Homo sapiens: one gene and its partner. The protein of the gene in region 1 interacts with the protein of each later gene in a biochemical or structural test. Each region holds a gene or a part of one and is shown on either strand. Other genes may lie near its edges.

What was found.
Region 2: the proteins of SERPINB3 (region 1) and CTSK form a complex in vitro, tested with the Homo sapiens proteins (one study listed by BioGRID).

What each region holds. Positions count from the first base shown.
Region 1 is NC_000018.10:63,657,732-63,667,689, reverse strand, and holds the start of SERPINB3 (serpin B3), read left to right. Parts: upstream 1-5,796; 5' UTR 5,797-5,844; intron 5,845-6,447; 5' UTR 6,448-6,473; coding exon 6,474-6,638; intron 6,639-6,833; coding exon 6,834-6,890; intron 6,891-8,162; coding exon 8,163-8,291; intron 8,292-9,059; coding exon 9,060-9,177; intron 9,178-9,958. UniProt on the Homo sapiens protein: May act as a papain-like cysteine protease inhibitor to modulate the host immune response against tumor cells. Also functions as an inhibitor of UV-induced apoptosis via suppression of the activity of c-Jun NH(2)-terminal kinase (JNK1).
Region 2 is NC_000001.11:150,797,424-150,805,830, reverse strand, and holds part of CTSK (cathepsin K preproprotein), read left to right. Parts: intron 1-1,591; coding exon 1,592-1,810; intron 1,811-6,121; coding exon 6,122-6,287; intron 6,288-6,557; coding exon 6,558-6,663; intron 6,664-8,407. UniProt on the Homo sapiens protein: Thiol protease involved in osteoclastic bone resorption and may participate partially in the disorder of bone remodeling. Displays potent endoprotease activity against fibrinogen at acid pH. May play an important role in extracellular matrix degradation.

The DNA of each region.
Region 1 (9,958 bases):
CCAAGTACTTGCTATTAATCAAGGTCGCTACAGAAAACAAAGGGCACCATCAAATCTGTAATCAAATAGAGGGACTATTTACAACAGTATGATTCGGACTAAGAGGAAGCAACAAAGAATGGTGAAACATCCAAGATCTAGCAATAGCGAAGAGACTATTCTAACCCTAGTCCAGAAGGGCAAATGGTGAAGTCATTACCAAACCCCAGAGAAAGTAGATGTAGCTTTGGAAAACATTGCCCAATAAGCTCTGTAGCCTTTGGTAAAGTAACGCAAACATCTCTTTTGACCCTCAAAGTGAGGGATCCAGTTGGCTAAGCACTCTGTCTTCACCTAGTTGCTGACCTACTCTTGGTGCCTGCCATTGACCAAATCTAACTGGATGCCAGAGGGCACAGGAGCCTTATTATGTCTCTGTACAACTCAGCTTCTTGGAACCCATACGAGGTAGAGAAGAATGAAAGGTGTAACTGAAGAAGCAAAATAAGATACCCAGCACAGCCACATTCCCATGAGGGCAAATTTCTTTATGTCTCTAGAACTTCACATCTCCATTGGTACTCCAGAGACAAGCATCAACAATAGTTACATTTTTTATGTAAAAAACCATATTCAGGTACATGAAACACAAGGATTCCAATGAACAAAAGGGTAAAAGAAAGACAATTCACGAAAGAGGAAATTAAACTAGAAAAGAGATGTAAAATAACATTGGCTGTCTGTTGCCAATCAAATGAAAGCTTTGAAGTCACTCAGAATAATTGAAGCAGTTTGAATAAAGAGCGGAGATGTGATAGATTACTTAGTGAATATGAAGGAGCAGCATAGAAGATGGTAGGAGGTACATGGTATACCTGCATGGCCAACAAAATTAAAATAGGACATTGAAGACAGAGAAAAACGATGGCTAGAAAAGCAGTAGGAATAAAAGAGAAGATCATGCTTCCTGGCTTCATGGTATGAGAATGGAGGAGTGAGTAGATACCCATGAGAAAAGATCAAGGGGCATGCAGCCATCAGGGAAAATCCATAGTGCAGATAAAGCAAGGAGGAAGAAGGACAGTTCTAGTAAAAGGGAGAACATCAGTATAGGATGTTTCTTCGCAATAGAAAAAGAAGGCCAAGAGGAATCAGGGAGAGAGTTATAAGAGAAGACTAAGGGGACCAGGTTAGATTTGGTTTGGTTTGAAAGCATACAGTAAATATGATGTCTGTCCCTGGTGGTGTTGGTTGAGTAGGAAGGAGGAAGGGAGGCAAGAGATAATATCATTTTGTCTGTGCTACTGTAATTACATATATCAGGGGAAATTCAGCCAGATATCAGGTAAAATTCACCCCTGATATTTCACGTAGGTTCTTTTCTATTTTCCCTAAGTGTCGGCTGGTCTGAGAAATAAAGGGATAGAGTACAAAAGAGAGAAATTTTAAAGCTGGGTGTCTGGGGAAGACATCACAGTTTGGCAGGTTCCATGATACCCCCTGAGCCACAAAACCAGCAAGTTTTTATTAGTGATTTCAAAAGGAGAGGGAGTGTACGAATAGAGTGTGGGTCACAGAGATCACGTGCTTCACAAGGTGATAGAATATCACAAGGCAAATGGAGGCAGGGTGAGATCACAGGACCACAGGACCTGGGTGAAATTAAAATTGCTAATGAAGTTTCGGGCACGCATTGTCATTGATAACATCTTATCAGGAGACAGGGTTTGAGAGCAGACAACCGGTCTGACCAAAAATTTATTAGATGGGACTTTCCTCATCCTAATAAGCCTAGGAGCGCTACGGGAGGTTGGGGCTTATTTCATCCCTACAGCTTCAACCATAAAAGACGGCTGCCCCCCAAAGCGGCCATTTTAAAGGCCTACCCTCAGGGGCATATTCTCTTTCTCAGGGATGTTCCTTGATGAGAAAAAGAATTCAGCGATATTTCTCCCATTTGCTTTTGAAAGAAGAGAAATATGGCTCTGTTCCACCCAGCTCACCGGCGGTCAGAGTTTAAGGTTATCACTCATGTTCCCTGAACATTGCTGTTATCCTGTTCTTTTTTCAAGGTGCCCAGATTTCATATTGTTCAAACACACATGCTCTACAAATAATTTATGCAGTTAATGCAATCATCACAGGGTCCTGGGACCACATACATTCTCCTCAGCTTGCAAAGATGATGGGATTAAGAGATTAAAGTAAAGACAGGCATAGGAAATCACAAGGGTATTGATTGAGGAAGTGATAAGTGTTCATGAAATCTTCACAATTTATGTTCAGAGATTGCAGTAAAGACAGGCATAAGAAATTATAAAAGTATTAATTTGGGGAACTAATAAATGTCCATGAAAACTTCATAATCTATGTTCTTCTGCCATGGCTTCAGCCAGTCCCTCGGTTCAGGGTCCCTGACTTCCTGCAACATACATGTGAGACTATTTCCCGCTCTGCTTTTCAAACCTTACTGGAGTTGTTTTCCCTCATGAAAACTAAGAAAGGAAAGCTAGTTAATCTTATTCTGAGGTTGTTCAATATATACATATTCACATCTGTAGAGAGATCCTTGGGAATACAGTAATTGGCATATATTCTGTTATTTGATGCTTGAAAAATCTCTTCCACTAACCAGTTTCCCTATAGATAGGCACAAGCACATAGGTAAGAAACAATAAATAAATGTTCTCTTTAATTTGTAACTTCACAATGCTGAGAAAACTTTACAGCCTTCATAAGGAAGTGAGGTCCAGGAAAATCTAGGAGATATTTGTTAACCAACCTATAAAGACATTAGTAATGACAGGATATTTCCTGAAAGTGTAATTTCCCATTGAGGATTTGTTTTTAATTTCTGGATTCCTGGATCCAATGAAGTTGGCATAGGTTTATGAAATGCCAAGATACATAAGTTGGCAAGTGTTCACATGCAAAAAACTTCTTGGAATTCCTGAGCTCTCTGTGGCAATATATGACATCAGGATATGTCCCATCTCGCACATCAGGATATGTCCTGTCAAGAATGTCTATCACATGCCAGGAGTACTTTTTAGGAACAGAAAAAAATGTCTGAAATGGTTTCTCATTTGAACTCATCCAAGCTTTCTCTAAATTTAAGCAAACTCCTGGTCATTTTCAGTTAGTACCTTTCCTCAAGTTCAACCTTCATGACAAACCTCAGCATCTCAGAAGATTTAGCCATAGTCTGAAATTCTCTTCCATAGACTGGTCCCCTGTAATCCCAGTTTGCCTCAGCTTGTTATCCTGCTTTTTATTCCCCTCTATTCCCAGGCTGAGCTTCTTGCTTCTGTCCTATGAGACGTTAGATTCCTTCGCTTTGGTACCCAAGTAAACCCATCCTTCTCCATATACAGGAAGGTCCATTTTTCTCTTACAGCCCTGGATGCAGACTCAGCTAAGAAGACCATTATTCATTTTTGGAATTCTTCATCTAGGATATTTCCTCTTGTTTCTTTCTCTCCTATCTTTGAGCTTTTTAGATCATCAACACCCCATTAGTCTATTACCCAACTTAAATCAGGGAACTTATACCTCCCAAACTCATTCAGAGACTCCAAACATATATATTGATACAGGAGACCTAAGAAGAGCATGTCTTGGGGGTTGAGGAAACAGGCAGGTGAGAAACTTCCAGATTGGAAACACAGCTTCCTTTCTCCCGTCCAGCCCCTACTTCATCCTATCTGTTTCCGGAACCTTGTTGTAGATGAATCTCCCTTGACTTCATGATGTGCTGAGAAAACAAACTCATGGCTGGTGTTAAAAAGGGCCCATGACAATACCAAGTGTTGGGGAGAATGTGGAGAAATCAGAACTCTATTCACAGTCGGTTGGAATGCACACTTGTGCAGAATTCTATGGAGAAGAGTCTGGCATTTCCTCAAAATGTTAACCTGGATTTACCATATGACCCAGCGATTTCATTCATAGGTTTATACTCAAAAGAAATGAAGAAATATGCCATGCAAAAAAATGTACATGAAAAGTCAAAACATCATTATTCATAATAGTAAATGGATGGAAACAACACAAATGTCCATCAACTTATGAATAAAGAAAATGTGGTCTATTCATAGAATGGAATATTATTCGACCACAAAAAGGAATGATGTACTGATCCATGCAATGACGTGGACAAACCTTGAAGATAATACTAGATGAAAGAAGCCAGTCACAAAAGGACTTACTGTATGATTCGATTTACGTGAAATGTTTAGAATAGGCAAATCCATAGAAACAGGAGGTAGATTACTGGTTTCCAGGGTCTCGAGTAAGGGAAGAACGAGATACAAGTTTTCTTTTGGAGGTAGTGAAATTGTTGTGGAACGAGATCATGATGGTGATAGCACAACTTTGTGAATATAATAAAATCATTGAATTGTACAGTTGAATTTGTGGCATATAAATTATATGTTAAAAAAGGGGGTCCACAAAACAAACAGCCCCCCACTCTGGTTGTCAGGGAGATATTGGATTAAATGGCCTTGGACAACAACCCTCTCCCTGGCCACAGACATTCTTCAGATTACAAGATATTCCAGAGGAAACACTGGAATGAGTCTGAAGCCAGGTGCTAAATGGAAGGACCACCAAGAAACGTTGTGATCCTGACAGGTCAAGCAACTTCTTTTTCTGCTTAATTTTTAAATGAAAAATTAGAAAGCTGACATTCAAAATGGCCCGTCTGTTTCAATTGCTCTTCTCAGTGTCAGCCTGTTAACTCAATGTGTTAGTCTGTTTTCATGCTGCTGATAAAGACATACCTGAGATTAGGAAGTAAAAGAGGTTTAATTGGACTTAGAGTTCCACGTGATTGGGGAGGCCTCAGAATCACGGTAGGAGGCAAAAGTTATTCTTACATGGTGGCTGCAAGAGAAAATGAGGAAGAAGCAAAAGAAGAAACCCCTAATAAACCCATTGGATCTCCTGAGACTTATTAACTATCATGAGAATAGCACAAGAAAGACCGGCCCCCATGATTCAATTACCTCTACCTGGGTCCCTCCAACAACATGTGGAAATTCTGGTAGATACAATTCAAGTTGAGATTTGGGTGGGAACACAGCCAAACCATATCACTCAGCAAGGCAGATAACTTTCTCACTGAGCCTATGCAACAGAAAACCATCTGGGATGGTTGTAAGGGGCACAGGAAGTGACTGGTAGGATCACTGCCAAAGCTGAGCATTCAGGAGAAGGCAATAGAATCCTATTCTCCATAGTATGCTATAAGATACTGAAGTACACTTCTTCACTATCTCTTTGGACTTAGAATTAGCACTATATTCCTTGTTATACAGAAAAATTACTAAGGAAATTCATAGGATGACAAAAACTTTCAGAACTGAAAAACAGGAAATGTAAGCTTTTTAGTTCTTTGGTATTCGAAGTATGCCTAAAAGACAATGCAAAATCCAAGAAAAGAATGGTGGGGTTTTTGTTTGTTTGTTTTTGTTTTTGTTTTACAGCTGGAGTAGAATACAAAGGGATGGAGTTGAAACAAATGAGAGGAAATTGGAATTCTAAACTTATTCTCATTGGCATTAGAAAGGCACCTACATGTATTTCACATGAGCCGGTGACTGCTGACTTGCATTCTTATTTTTTCCCTATAGATTAAAAAGGAGGTACAATGGTAGAACTGTAATCCTGTCCTTTGTCATAAATTTTCGTATTCATAAAGGTGAGTGTTAGCCCGCTTGTGAAATCTGAAGTTGAGTAACTTCAAATACTAACCACAGAGGGAGAGGCAGCAAGAGGAGAGGCATAAATTCAGGATCTCACCCTTCATTCCACAGACACACATAGCCTCTCTGCCCACCTCTGCTTCCTCTAGGAACACAGGTAAGAGCTTCAAGCCTCTCCAGCTTAATAACATGAATTATTTTTGAGAATAATAATGATACTGTGTTCTATATCATGCATCTCCTGCATTCTGTCTGATTATATTTTACTTATTCTGCCAGAGCAAAATTAAAATACCTATTTCATCTGATTTGTCCTTTATCTAAATTGCTTAGTTCCAAGTAAACCAAGGCACTTTTAGGAACACAGAGGGAGAGTGCCTTGCAGCCAGAGAGTCTTGAAGGAGATGTCAGGGACGCATCTTAACAGCTGGTTGGATGTGATCCACAGAGGTCTCCTGTTAGCATTCATTGTAAAGCCTTCCTACCTAGCCCTAGTGTAGCCAGCAATGAAGGAAAGAGGGTCTATTACTTATTTACAGTAGTCTTTAAAAACACTAATTTTGTGAGGCTTCTAATTAAGACATTAATATATTTAATATATGCACATTGTAGAAAGATTGAAACGTTAAAAATAAGATGAGGAAAACTTTAAATGTCAAAATCTCACAACACAGATATATAATTTCTTTAAGAAAATTGTACTACAAAATACCATTCCATTTATTAAAGTCATTCTGACAGGAATCTGATGCTTTTCCAGGAGTTCCAGATCACATCGAGTTCACCATGAATTCACTCAGTGAAGCCAACACCAAGTTCATGTTCGACCTGTTCCAACAGTTCAGAAAATCAAAAGAGAACAACATCTTCTATTCCCCTATCAGCATCACATCAGCATTAGGGATGGTCCTCTTAGGAGCCAAAGACAACACTGCACAACAGATTAAGAAGGTAGCTATCAGCATCATTATGTTGTCCTGTTGCAGTTTTTCTCTGGTTCCGTCGGCTAGCACGCAGATGGTAATAGATGTGGTGGTCTGATGGGTAGCACAGGGGGCTGAGCAGGAATTCCCGTAACTGTGAGACCACTGACTTAAACAGATCTTTTGAGTAAAGTTTTCTTGTCCCGCTTCATGTCTCTTCCAGGTTCTTCACTTTGATCAAGTCACAGAGAACACCACAGGAAAAGCTGCAACATATCATGTGAGTCACAGAGCACTATGGTTCAGCTTTAGATCCCCGAACAGGTCATAGTTTGAACCTGGAACTTCACAGAAACTAAGAAAAGGCCATTTTTAGGGAAAATCTTGGACACAAAGATTGAGACATACAGAGTGGGTTGGCATTTCATGGCACATAATTATTATTCCTCCTTTCTTCGTTACTGAAAGACAGTCAGCACTGTACCTCAGAGCATAGGTCTGGATCAGGATAGGCTAGGTTCAGACTCCAGCTTTGCTCTTCACAAATGGTGAACATGAGCAGGACACAACTGCTCAGAGTCCCAGTGACCTCATCCCAGAAAACTAAGGGTAATAAGAAATCTGACTCAATACATGCAAATACATGCAAATGTTTACAACATTGCCTTGCCCATAAAATGTCATAATAAATGTTATTATTATTATAAAATAGCTATAATTATACTAATCACAATAATGTTGCAAAATATTTAATTTTCATTGAGTCATTAATGAGATAAAGAGGAATAAGCACAAGTCCAACTATATTTTGGAAAATGATTGCTATGGAATATATTGGTTTAGAGCCTTAATAGTGCAAAATGCTTTGCTGGAAAGTAGAAGTTTCTAGATTTAAACAGGCTTAGGTTCAAAACGTGGCACTTCTAATTTATGTCTCTATGAAGAGGTTTACTTTCCATTCTCTGAGCTTTCTTGTTTTCACCTGAATTGAACTAAAGACTTAAAGTTACCCATGTAAAGTCCTTAGCCATGTACCTGGCACACACTCTTCTTACGTGCAGAGAATGACCATCATGAGGAAACAGTCACAGATCAGTCAATGTGTCCTACAAGATAACAGCACCAACAGGTATAACAGGGCTTCCTGGCATAATCTATTTAAAATATCCAACCTTCAACATACTCATATCCTTGATGACTGTTAGAAGTGAAATATGGTCCTTGCCTTTAAGGAGCTGAGAGTTTAACTGGGAAGCTAAACCTAACCCTTTAAACCAACAAGGACAAAATCCAGTGGTAGACAGTGCTGCATCTATAGTTCAGAAGAGAAAAGATTGCAGTACATTAGAGCAAGAAGAATTTCCTGGAAGAAGTGAAACATAAGGTGGATTTTGAAGGGTATTTGAGGTGAAATACACCAAGTATCAGGGAATAAGCTCAAAGGTCCTCATTGAGACTACCAGCCATTAGGGACTGATCTAACAGACTTAGCATGGGTTTAGTATTTACATTGATACAGCAATTGAATGATCTCCTTTTTTGATGTTTGAAGGTTGATAGGTCAGGAAATGTTCATCACCAGTTTCAAAAGCTTCTGACTGAATTCAACAAATCCACTGATGCATATGAGCTGAAGATCGCCAACAAGCTCTTCGGAGAAAAAACGTATCTATTTTTACAGGTAATTTCACCTGGCCTACCCACATTTCATTTGCATCCTGATGTCTGTGTCTCTGAGTGGCCAAATGGAAGAAAGCAAGGCAGATGAGCCTGACCGATCCAGGTGGAGAGCATTTACTCAGAGTGCAATAGCTCCGTTTCCACAACTCTCCCCCACTGGAGTGTCCCAGACCCTAACAATACATCACTGAAGTGTGGATTTAGGGATAATCTTGTAATAAAAGAGGAGGTTGGGTAATAGAGTGAGTAAGAGTAATAAGTAATAAGATACCATCGATAAACTGGCACTGACTCAGTCACATACGATACATCTTGGTGGGAAATGTATGACTAATGGGATATTATTGGAATGGGCAGGCTTGGGTGAGTTCCTGAGAATAGTTGAGGAAGTACCAGGAAATACTGAATGCACAGGATGAAAGATAAAAACAAAGATCAGAAACATCATGGTTGAAATTACTGGAAAGAGGTCTGAGAAGCAATGAATCTCCTTCAGGGAAGCCTGCTCTGCAGTTTGCAAACCACAGCCTCTTCTGCTTCTGCCTTTTGCCAGATGATATTGACCTTCGGTGACCTCTTTCTTGCGCCAGCCCGCACTCCGCTTTTGCATTGCCTACATGGCACCAGTATAAAAATATGCATGGACAGGAGATACTGCATCTATTCAGGGTCTGGATTCAGCTTACTATAATTATAAATAACTAAATTTGGTAATATATAGTTACATAAATTACTCTTACTTCCTACTTTCTTCCTTCATATCTCAAAGGAATATTTAGATGCCATCAAGAAATTTTACCAGACCAGTGTGGAATCTGTTGATTTTGCAAATGCTCCAGAAGAAAGTCGAAAGAAGATTAACTCCTGGGTGGAAAGTCAAACGAATGGTAGGAGAGCCACCCATTATAGAAACACCTTTGAGAAATCTATGCGAGTGAGCCCTATGCCTGAAACTGCATGGGGGACCATGGGTGGGAATTGAGATGGCTTTGCAGGGAGGGAAGAAGAGGGCACTCCAGATGAAGAGTTTTTCCAAATGATTATGAAGAGAGCCTAGGGGAGCCAAGGAGGAAATCACAGGAAGCCAATTAGAAGAAAACATAGCCGGAGGATTCTTTGCTCATGTTCCTGGATGACAATAGCTTTGTGGATCCCTTGTCTCCACTCAGGTCCAATTTGAGATCATGTCCTTTACTTTAAATCAGAACCAATATTTTATGATGAATATTTAAAAGGAAACATTAGAAAGCATCTCCCTTCCCCTTTACTAATTGGGAAACAAGCAGCTCTCTGGTAAATCACCCTTTTGCCATCTGAACTAGAGCTGCCTGGATCACATCTCTAGCCACAAGTTCTGCAGGGATTATCACAGCTCTCTTCCCCATCAAGGGCAAGAGCTTAACAAATTCTCCATTCTATAGACATCTATCCTACCTCCCACCTCTCATTACAGGCCAAACTTACAGCAACTCAACATGAGAGTGAATAGGAAGATACCCCCGGAAGTAGTGTCTGACAGCACAGGACATGCGTTTCATATTACAGAGCTCATGTCACTTGTCCTAAAAAGCAGTCAGGGCCTACTTCCTCTGAATGGGGACCCCGTAGTTAAAAAAAAAAAAAAAAAAGTAGGAAGAGGAGGGAGGGAGAAAGGAAAGACACATGTTG
Region 2 (8,407 bases), on another chromosome or scaffold:
TAATCTGGCATGACCTTTTCCTTTTTCTGCTGCTTTGTTCTTGAGGTGAAAGGGCACCAGGAAAAGAGGGCAAGGAATTAAGGTACATCTCCCCATTCCCATTCTGTTATTTAACCTCATTTGTTTCTGTACATTTGGGTTGTTTCTGGTTTTTCTTTTTCTTTTCCTTTTTTTTTTTTTTTTTTTTTTTTTGAGATAGAGTCTCACTCTGTCGCCCAGGATGGAGTGCAGTGGTGCAATCTTGGCTCACTGCAACCTACACCTCCCGGGTTCAAGCGATTCTCCTGCCTCAGCCTCCTGAGTAGCTGAGATTACAGGCACGCGCCACTACGCCTGGCTAATTTTTCTATTTTTATAGAGATGCGTTTTCACCATGTTGGCCAGGCTGGTCTTGAACTGACCTCAGGTGATCCACCTGCCTCAGCCTCCCAAAGTGCTGGGATTAGAGTCATGAGCCATCGCGGCCTGGTTTTTCTTTATTACAAATAGTGTTGCAATAAGCACCCTTGTGCATATGTTTTTGTGCACATGTACAAATATTTATGCAAAATAAGTCCTAAAATTGGAATTGTTAGGTCACAAATAATCCTTTCCCCCCCCCCAAATTTTTTTTTTTTTTTTGAGACAGCGTCTCTGTCACCCAGGCTGGAGTCCAGTGGCGCAATCATGGCTCACTGCAGCCTCAACGTCTCAGGCTCAAGTGATTCTCCAACCTCAGCCTCCCTAGTAGCTGGGATTAGAAGCACATGCCACCACACCCAGCTAATTTTAAAAAATTTTTTGTAGAGACAGAGTTTTGCCATGCTACCCAGGCTGGTCTCAAATTCCTGGGCTCAAGCAATCTGCCCGCTTCGGCCTCCCAAAGTGCTAGGATTACAGACATGAGCCACCATGCCCAGCCCAAAAAAGTTTTTGCAATCTTACATTCTTACTAGCATGAGAATGTCAGTTTTTTCACAACCCAAACAACACAGGATTGTATCAGCAAGATAAACAATTGATTTAACGTTCATTTAACAAACACTTTTTGACCCCCAGAACCTACCAGATGCAGTGTTAGGCAGCAGAGACTCAAGATGACTAAGACACAACCTGTGTCCTCAGGAAATCTCAATCTAAAAAAATAGAACAGGAAAGAAAGAAAAATCTACAATCTAGCTGCACAAACAATAATAGCTAATACTTTTTGAGATTTTATTGTTTGTCAGGAACTTCTTAACTCTTTACATGAGTTAAATATTTAATCCTTATAACAATATTTTATGCATAGAGAAACTGAGACACAGGCAAATTTAGTAACTTACCCGGGGTCACATAGCTACTGGGTGGCAAAGTCAGGGTTAGCACCCAGGACAAATGCCTCCACAGCTGGTACTGTGCTCTGCTTTACTGTAGCTAATAGTAAAAATGGTAGCAAAAATCAATAGCAGTAGAACAGTGCAACAGATATTAAGCGGAAGAGGAAGACTCACAACAATGACAACATTTGTGCTGAAATTTTTAGAACACATGGAATTTCTTCAGGCAGGTAGAGAGAAGATATAGAAAATGTAAACAGCAAAGATTGATAGTTTCTCTGTATGCCTTTCAGGGTCAGTGTGGTTCCTGTTGGGCTTTTAGCTCTGTGGGTGCCCTGGAGGGCCAACTCAAGAAGAAAACTGGCAAACTCTTAAATCTGAGTCCCCAGAACCTAGTGGATTGTGTGTCTGAGAATGATGGCTGTGGAGGGGGCTACATGACCAATGCCTTCCAATATGTGCAGAAGAACCGGGGTATTGACTCTGAAGATGCCTACCCATATGTGGGACAGGTGAGATTGCTCCACACAATTATACAGCTCTGTTGGCTCCTCCTTCCCCAGCATGATGTTTTGTACTGGAAACAATTCCAGAAATACTGTTTTCTGTTATCCTATCCTGCTTTCTTGATGGAATAATTTCCCACAGAAGGCCAAGAAGATTTCCACAATCTGGGGGAATTTAGGGAGCTTAAGCTACTATAGCTCCTATTTGCATCTCTGCCATGGAGAGAAAACAGAGGCTAGGCTACCTACCCCATAGACTTCCGAGCTGGGTTCTATAACCCTCTGCTCAATTCCTCACTCCCACAACAAACCCACAAACCCACCATGCTATTTTCACAAATTGTGTGGCTTTATTTTATATGATCTCAGTGTGAGTTTTCAGAACATTTCAGCAAATTATGTAAGTTTACATGCTAACATCTATAAAATGAGAGAAAAAACAAGTTGCTTCATATAAGAGATAAGGGATTAACTCAGTTCCTCCTGCATGATCCTCTAGTCATAGGAAGGAAATCATATCTGAAAGGGAGGCAACCTGAGGGGTTTTTTATACACATAGGGCTGGGTCTGATAGACAATATAATGTAGGGCCTTCACAACAGAAACCTCTGAAACAGGGACAGCAAGTTTGAGAATAAAAATGATGGCTACTGTGTTCTAAGCCGTGTCCTTAGTGCATTTTTTCTTTTTCTTTTTTTCATTTAATCTCATAACAACTCTGTTAGGTAGACTTATCTTGAATGTATAGGTGAGGAAATGGACACTTAAGGAGATAAGACAGTATAATTCATACCACTAGTATGTAACAATGTAAGATGTATCTACCAGGGATGTTTATCTTCTGCAAACATTCCTAGGTATATCTCCCATGCACATGTGCAAGAATTTCTTACTAGGATATAATGCCTTGGAACTGAATTGTCTGGGTCTTAGGGTATGTCTGTCTTCAACTTTACTACACAATGTCAAATTGTTTGCCAAAATATTTGGAAAAATTTATACCTGCAATGTGTAAGAAATCCCCTTCAATCACCTTTTTATCAGTATGTTTATCTGGCCATTTGCATTTCTTCTTCAGTGAATTAACTGTTTTTATCTCTTGCTCATTTGTTTTTCTTTTTATTTTTTTGAAATAGGGTCTTACTCTGTTGCCCAGGCTGGAGTGTGGTGATATAGTCATAGCTCACTGCAGCCTCCACTTCCTGGGCTCAAGCAATCCTCTCGCCTCAGCCTCCCAAATAGCTAGGATATAGGTGCATGCCATCATGCCCACCAATTTCAAAAAACCTTTGAAATTTTTTTTTGTAGAGGCTAGGCATGGTGGCTCATGCCTGTAATCCCAGCACTTTGGGAGGCTGAGGTGGGAGGATCACTTAAGCCCAGGAGTTCCAGATCAGCCTGGTACAACATAGCAAGACCTCATCTCTACAGAAAAAATTTTTAAAAGTAGCCAGGTATGATGGCGTGCATAGTTCTAGCTACTCAGGAGGCTGGTTGGGAGGACAACTTGAGCCTGGGAGTTCAAGGCTGCTGTGAGCTGTGATCATGTCACTGCTCTCTAGCCTGGGTGACAGAGTGAGACCCTGTCCCCAAAAACAACAACCGTTTTTTTTGGTAGAGACATTGTCTCGCTATGTTGCCAAGGCTAGTCTCAAACTCCTAGGCTCAAGCAATCCTCCCACCTCCCAAAGTGCTGGGATTATAGATGTAAGCCACCATGCCTGGCCTACCCTTTTTTTTTTTTTTTTGAAATGGAGTTTTGCTTTTGTCACCTAGGCTTGAGTGCAGTGGCGCGATCTTGGCTCACTGCAACCTCCACCTCCTGGATTCAAGCAATTCTCCTGCCTCAGCCTCCTGAGTAGCTGGGATTATAGGCACCCGCAACCACGCCCGGCTAGTTTTTGTATTTTTAGTACAGACAGGGTTTCACCATGTTGGCCAGGCTGGTCTTGAACCCCTGACCTCAGGTGGTCCGCCCGCCTCGGCCTCCCAAAGTGCTGGGATTACAGGTGTGAGCCACCATGCCCCACCCCTTACTCATTTTTAATTGGATTGTTTTTTCTCTTTCTTAGCGATTCTTAAAAGTTTAAAGAGAATATTTGGATACAATACTATGTATTTAAAAGTTGAGGTTTGTCTTTTCATTCTTTTTATGATGTCTTTCAATCTAGAAAAGTTAATTTTAATAGGCCTGGCGCGGTGGCTCACGCTTGTAATCCCAGCACTTTGGGAGGCTGAGATGGGTGGATCACAAGGTCAGGAGATCAAGACCATCCTGGCTAACATGGTGAAACCCTGTCTCTACTAAAAATACAAAAAAATTAGCTGGGCGTGGTGGCAGGTGCCTGTAGTTCCAGCTACTCGGGAGGCTGAGGCAGGAGAATGGCGTGAACCCGGGAGGTGGAGCTTGCAGTGAGCCGAGATTGCACCACTGCACTCCAGCCTGGGCAACTGAGCAAGACTGCGTTTCAAAAAAAAAAAAAAGTTAATTTTAATATAGTAAAATTAGTAAAATGATTAATTTTCCTTTGCAATTTTTGTAATGTGTTTTATTCGTTTATGAATGGAGAAAGGTAAGAAAAAATAAAATTTAAAAAAGAAGAGATGTGGCCAGGTACGGTGGCTCACACCTATAATCCCAGTAGTTTGGGAGGCTGAGGCAGGCAGATCACTTGAGGTCAGGAGTTTGAGACCAGCTGGGATAACATGGTGAAACCCCATCTCTACTAAAAATACAAAAATTAGCCAGGTGTGATTGCGCACGCTTGTAATCCCAGCAGGCTGAGGCAGGAGAATTGCTCGAACTCAGGAGGCAGAGGTTGCAGTGAGCCAAGATCATGCCATTGCACTCCAGCCTGGGTAACAGAGACTCTGTCTCAAAAAATAAAAAGATAAAAAAGAAGAGATCTGATAGGGCGGCCAGATAACATTTTAAAGGGATGGTATTATAAGTTTGTTCCAGCATAATGCAGGTTATTCTGACTTTAAAGTATCATCACATAATATCTTTTTGAGTCAATTTCCAAGATATTCTGTTTCACTTGTAATTCTGTGTAATTTTTGGCACCAGGAGGCATCAGGGATTTGGAGCACATGGCAGAAACAAAGGCATCTTGAAAAATATCAAGGCAGTAGACCACTGTAATCTTAAAATGGCATATCAAATGCTGCTATTGCTGTTAATATTTAGATAATGTTAGATAATGTATTTTTTTAGAGGGTATCTCACTATCTTGCACAGGCTGGAGTAGAGTGGCTATTCACAGCATGATCACAGTACACTAAAGGCTCAAACTCCTGGGCACAAACAATCCTCCTGCCTCAGCCTGCTGAGTAGTAGATAATAAGTTCTTGTGGATGCAACCTTAGGGTTCTGAAGGGGTAGTCTGTAGGAAAATGAATTGCTGAAAAGAATACACCACCTTAACATGGGCTATTATTCGATTCCATAATTGTGGCTTGCCAATGAAACATTGCTAACTACCTGTAAAATATAGTGTTGGAAGTCATAGGCTAAATTGCTAAGTTCTTTAATCTATTTTAGTGTCTTGTTATGTACTTTTATATTTTGTCTTTGATGAGAGCACAAGGATCACACCAGTTCCCCTGATATAGGTGCAGAGGGCCCAGGTCTTCCCTCTAGCTAAGCCTTGGCCTTGGCCTCCTACCCACACAGCAGCTGGTGCCTTCCTGCCCCCTGAGGCTAATACATACTATGTGGCCAGAAGATGGTTTATGCTTTTTAAAAAAATCTTATTTCAGAAATCTTTCCCTACTGTTTTCCTCCCACATTTATGTCTTAAAACACCTGTAGTTGATTTTTTTTTTTTTTGAGATGGAGTCTCGCTCTCGCCCAGGCTGGAGTGCAATGGCGCGATCTTGGCTCACTACAAGGTCTGCCTCCCAGGTTCACGCCATTCTCCTGCCTCAGCCTCCCCAGTAGCTGGGACTACAGGCGCCCGCTACCACGCCTGGCTAATTTTTTTGCATTTTTAGTAGAGACAGGGTTTCACTGTGTTAGCCAGGATGGTCTCGATCTCCTGACCTCGTGATCCACCCTCCTCAGCCTCCCAAAGTGCTGGGATTACAGGCATGAGCCACCGCACCTGGCCTGTAGTTGGTTTTTATGTGTGGTGGAAGGCGGGAATCCTCTTTTCATATTCGTTTTTCTGAGGAAGAACAGACCCTCTCTAGAAACCCTAGACTGCTGCCTCTGTTAGTTCACTGGCATCACTCAAAATATTGGTTGAGTTTCTTACTCACTGACTCATTGCCTATTGCTTTGTCCTAGTCCTATTACAATCTTGTTTCTTCCAGGAAGAGAGTTGTATGTACAACCCAACAGGCAAGGCAGCTAAATGCAGAGGGTACAGAGAGATCCCCGAGGGGAATGAGAAAGCCCTGAAGAGGGCAGTGGCCCGAGTGGGACCTGTCTCTGTGGCCATTGATGCAAGCCTGACCTCCTTCCAGTTTTACAGCAAAGGTAAGAAGCTGCTGATCCTATACAGCACTGTCTTTTATGATACAAACTTGATGGTTTCTCGAAGGACCTTGGGTATTTTCAGTACTTAGTTTTTGTATTCACATGGAGGTGGCCAGAGAGAAATTAACAACTGCTGCAGTATGGAGCAGCATCTCTGTGGTAAACCCTCCTGACACGGATGGAATTCTTCAAACAGTCTCCTAGACTGGGAGATCCCACAGGGTGACCCTTGGATTGCATAGAGCCTCACGCTGGTAGTTTGTATTCTAGGTGTGTATTATGATGAAAGCTGCAATAGCGATAATCTGAACCATGCAGTTTTGGCAGTGGGATATGGAATCCAGAAGGGAAACAAGCACTGGATAATTAAAAACAGGTAATGATGGGAACACTACTTTTGTTATTCAGTCACCCTTTTAACACTCAACCTCACCTCCAGCTTCCCGATATTCCTTTCTCTGTCCCAAATCAAGAAAAAATTATCTCAGAGTTCTCACTTCTATCTTCTCAGTCAGAGGCTCTTAATTCTCAGTCTGACACTTAATGGCCAGTGTGTTAGTCCATTTTGCATTGCCACAAAAGAATACCCGAGACTGGGTAATTTATAAAGAAACGAGGTTTGTTTGGCTATACAAAGCGTGGCACTAGTATCTGCTCAGCCTCTGATGAGGCCTCAGAGCTTTTACTCATGGCAGAAGGCAAAAGAGGGAGCAGGCATGTCACATAGTGAGAGAGGGAGCAAGAGAGAGAGGGAGGTGCCGACTCTTTAAAGAACCAGCTCTTGCATGAACTAATAGAGTGAGAACTCACTCATCACCAAGGCGATGGCACCAAGCCATTCATGAGGAATCCACTCTCATAACCCAAACACCTCCCACTATGCCCCACCTCCCACATTGGGGATCACATTTCAGCATGAGACTGGGAGGGGACACACATCCAAACCATATCCGCCAGACAATAGTGCTCAATTATGTGCTGGGCAGATGCTCCCTGTGTGCAAGGTGCTTAGTGACATACATAAACCAACGAGCAGATGACACCTTCAGTGAGCTCAGAGCCCAATAAGACAGACCTAACTAACCATGAGATAAAGCAGTACAAAGAACCAGCAGGAGCTTTGGAATTACGTATTTTTACTTTCTTTTGTCTCTAATGTGATCAGTTTCTTAGATGGTTTCCATTAGCAATCTGTCTTTAACAGTAGGGGAACAGCGTAAAGGTTTAATATTCCTTTGAACAGTTTTTTTCCTTCAAAATACACTTAAGATACACGTATATAAGAACTTGCCAAAGATTGTGAAGAGAAACATTTTTTAGAAATAAGATATAAACAAAAAAAGTTAGTGTTTACTTTCCTATGTTGGGGAACAAAGAAAACTCCAGGGTACCTTGCTTCCCATTTCTCTTTAGCACCTTGTGACTTTTGGGGAGGGGCAGATTGATAACAATTATAGTTTTCCTTTCCTGGCTGATCACCATTAACCTGGCAGCAGCACTGGCTAAATCTCCTGTCCTTAGTGCCCTCCAAGGAGCAGGAGCCCTAGACTCTGGGTCGCTGACAGACTCACGCAGTGGTGTTGTTCAAACCTGAAGCAACTTTTTATATCACAGTTCCAACTCAAGGTGAACCTGAGCATCTTCCCAAGTCTCCCACAGCTTCTGTCCTGTGTTGTCCCTTCTCTTGACTCCCAGGTCCAAGCACTTACCCTGTTCTTTCATGATCAGGTACCATGTGTGGAGATAGCTTCCAAGAGAGCTGGGAGGAAGAAAGGACACACCCGGGCAGGATCAGGAACACTGGGGGCCCCTGGAGAAGGGGAGAGTGGGGGAGGGTACAGGTTTTAAATAAAATGTGTTGGGTAATTAGAGAAGTTGCTGGTTGGGGAAAGAGGACTGAAAACAATTCAGGAAGATAAACAGACAATCTCTCCTCTCTCCTCTTTCTCACGTCGTCTCTCTTGTCTTCTAGTCTCGCTACTCATTTCCTTAGTAATCTCATCCACTCTCATAGTTTCATCCATCTCTCCTATGGGGTTTACTCCCAAATCAAGATCACCAGCTTCAGCCTCTTTCTTATGCTCTAAACTCACATTTTCAAGATTAATATTCCCCAAATA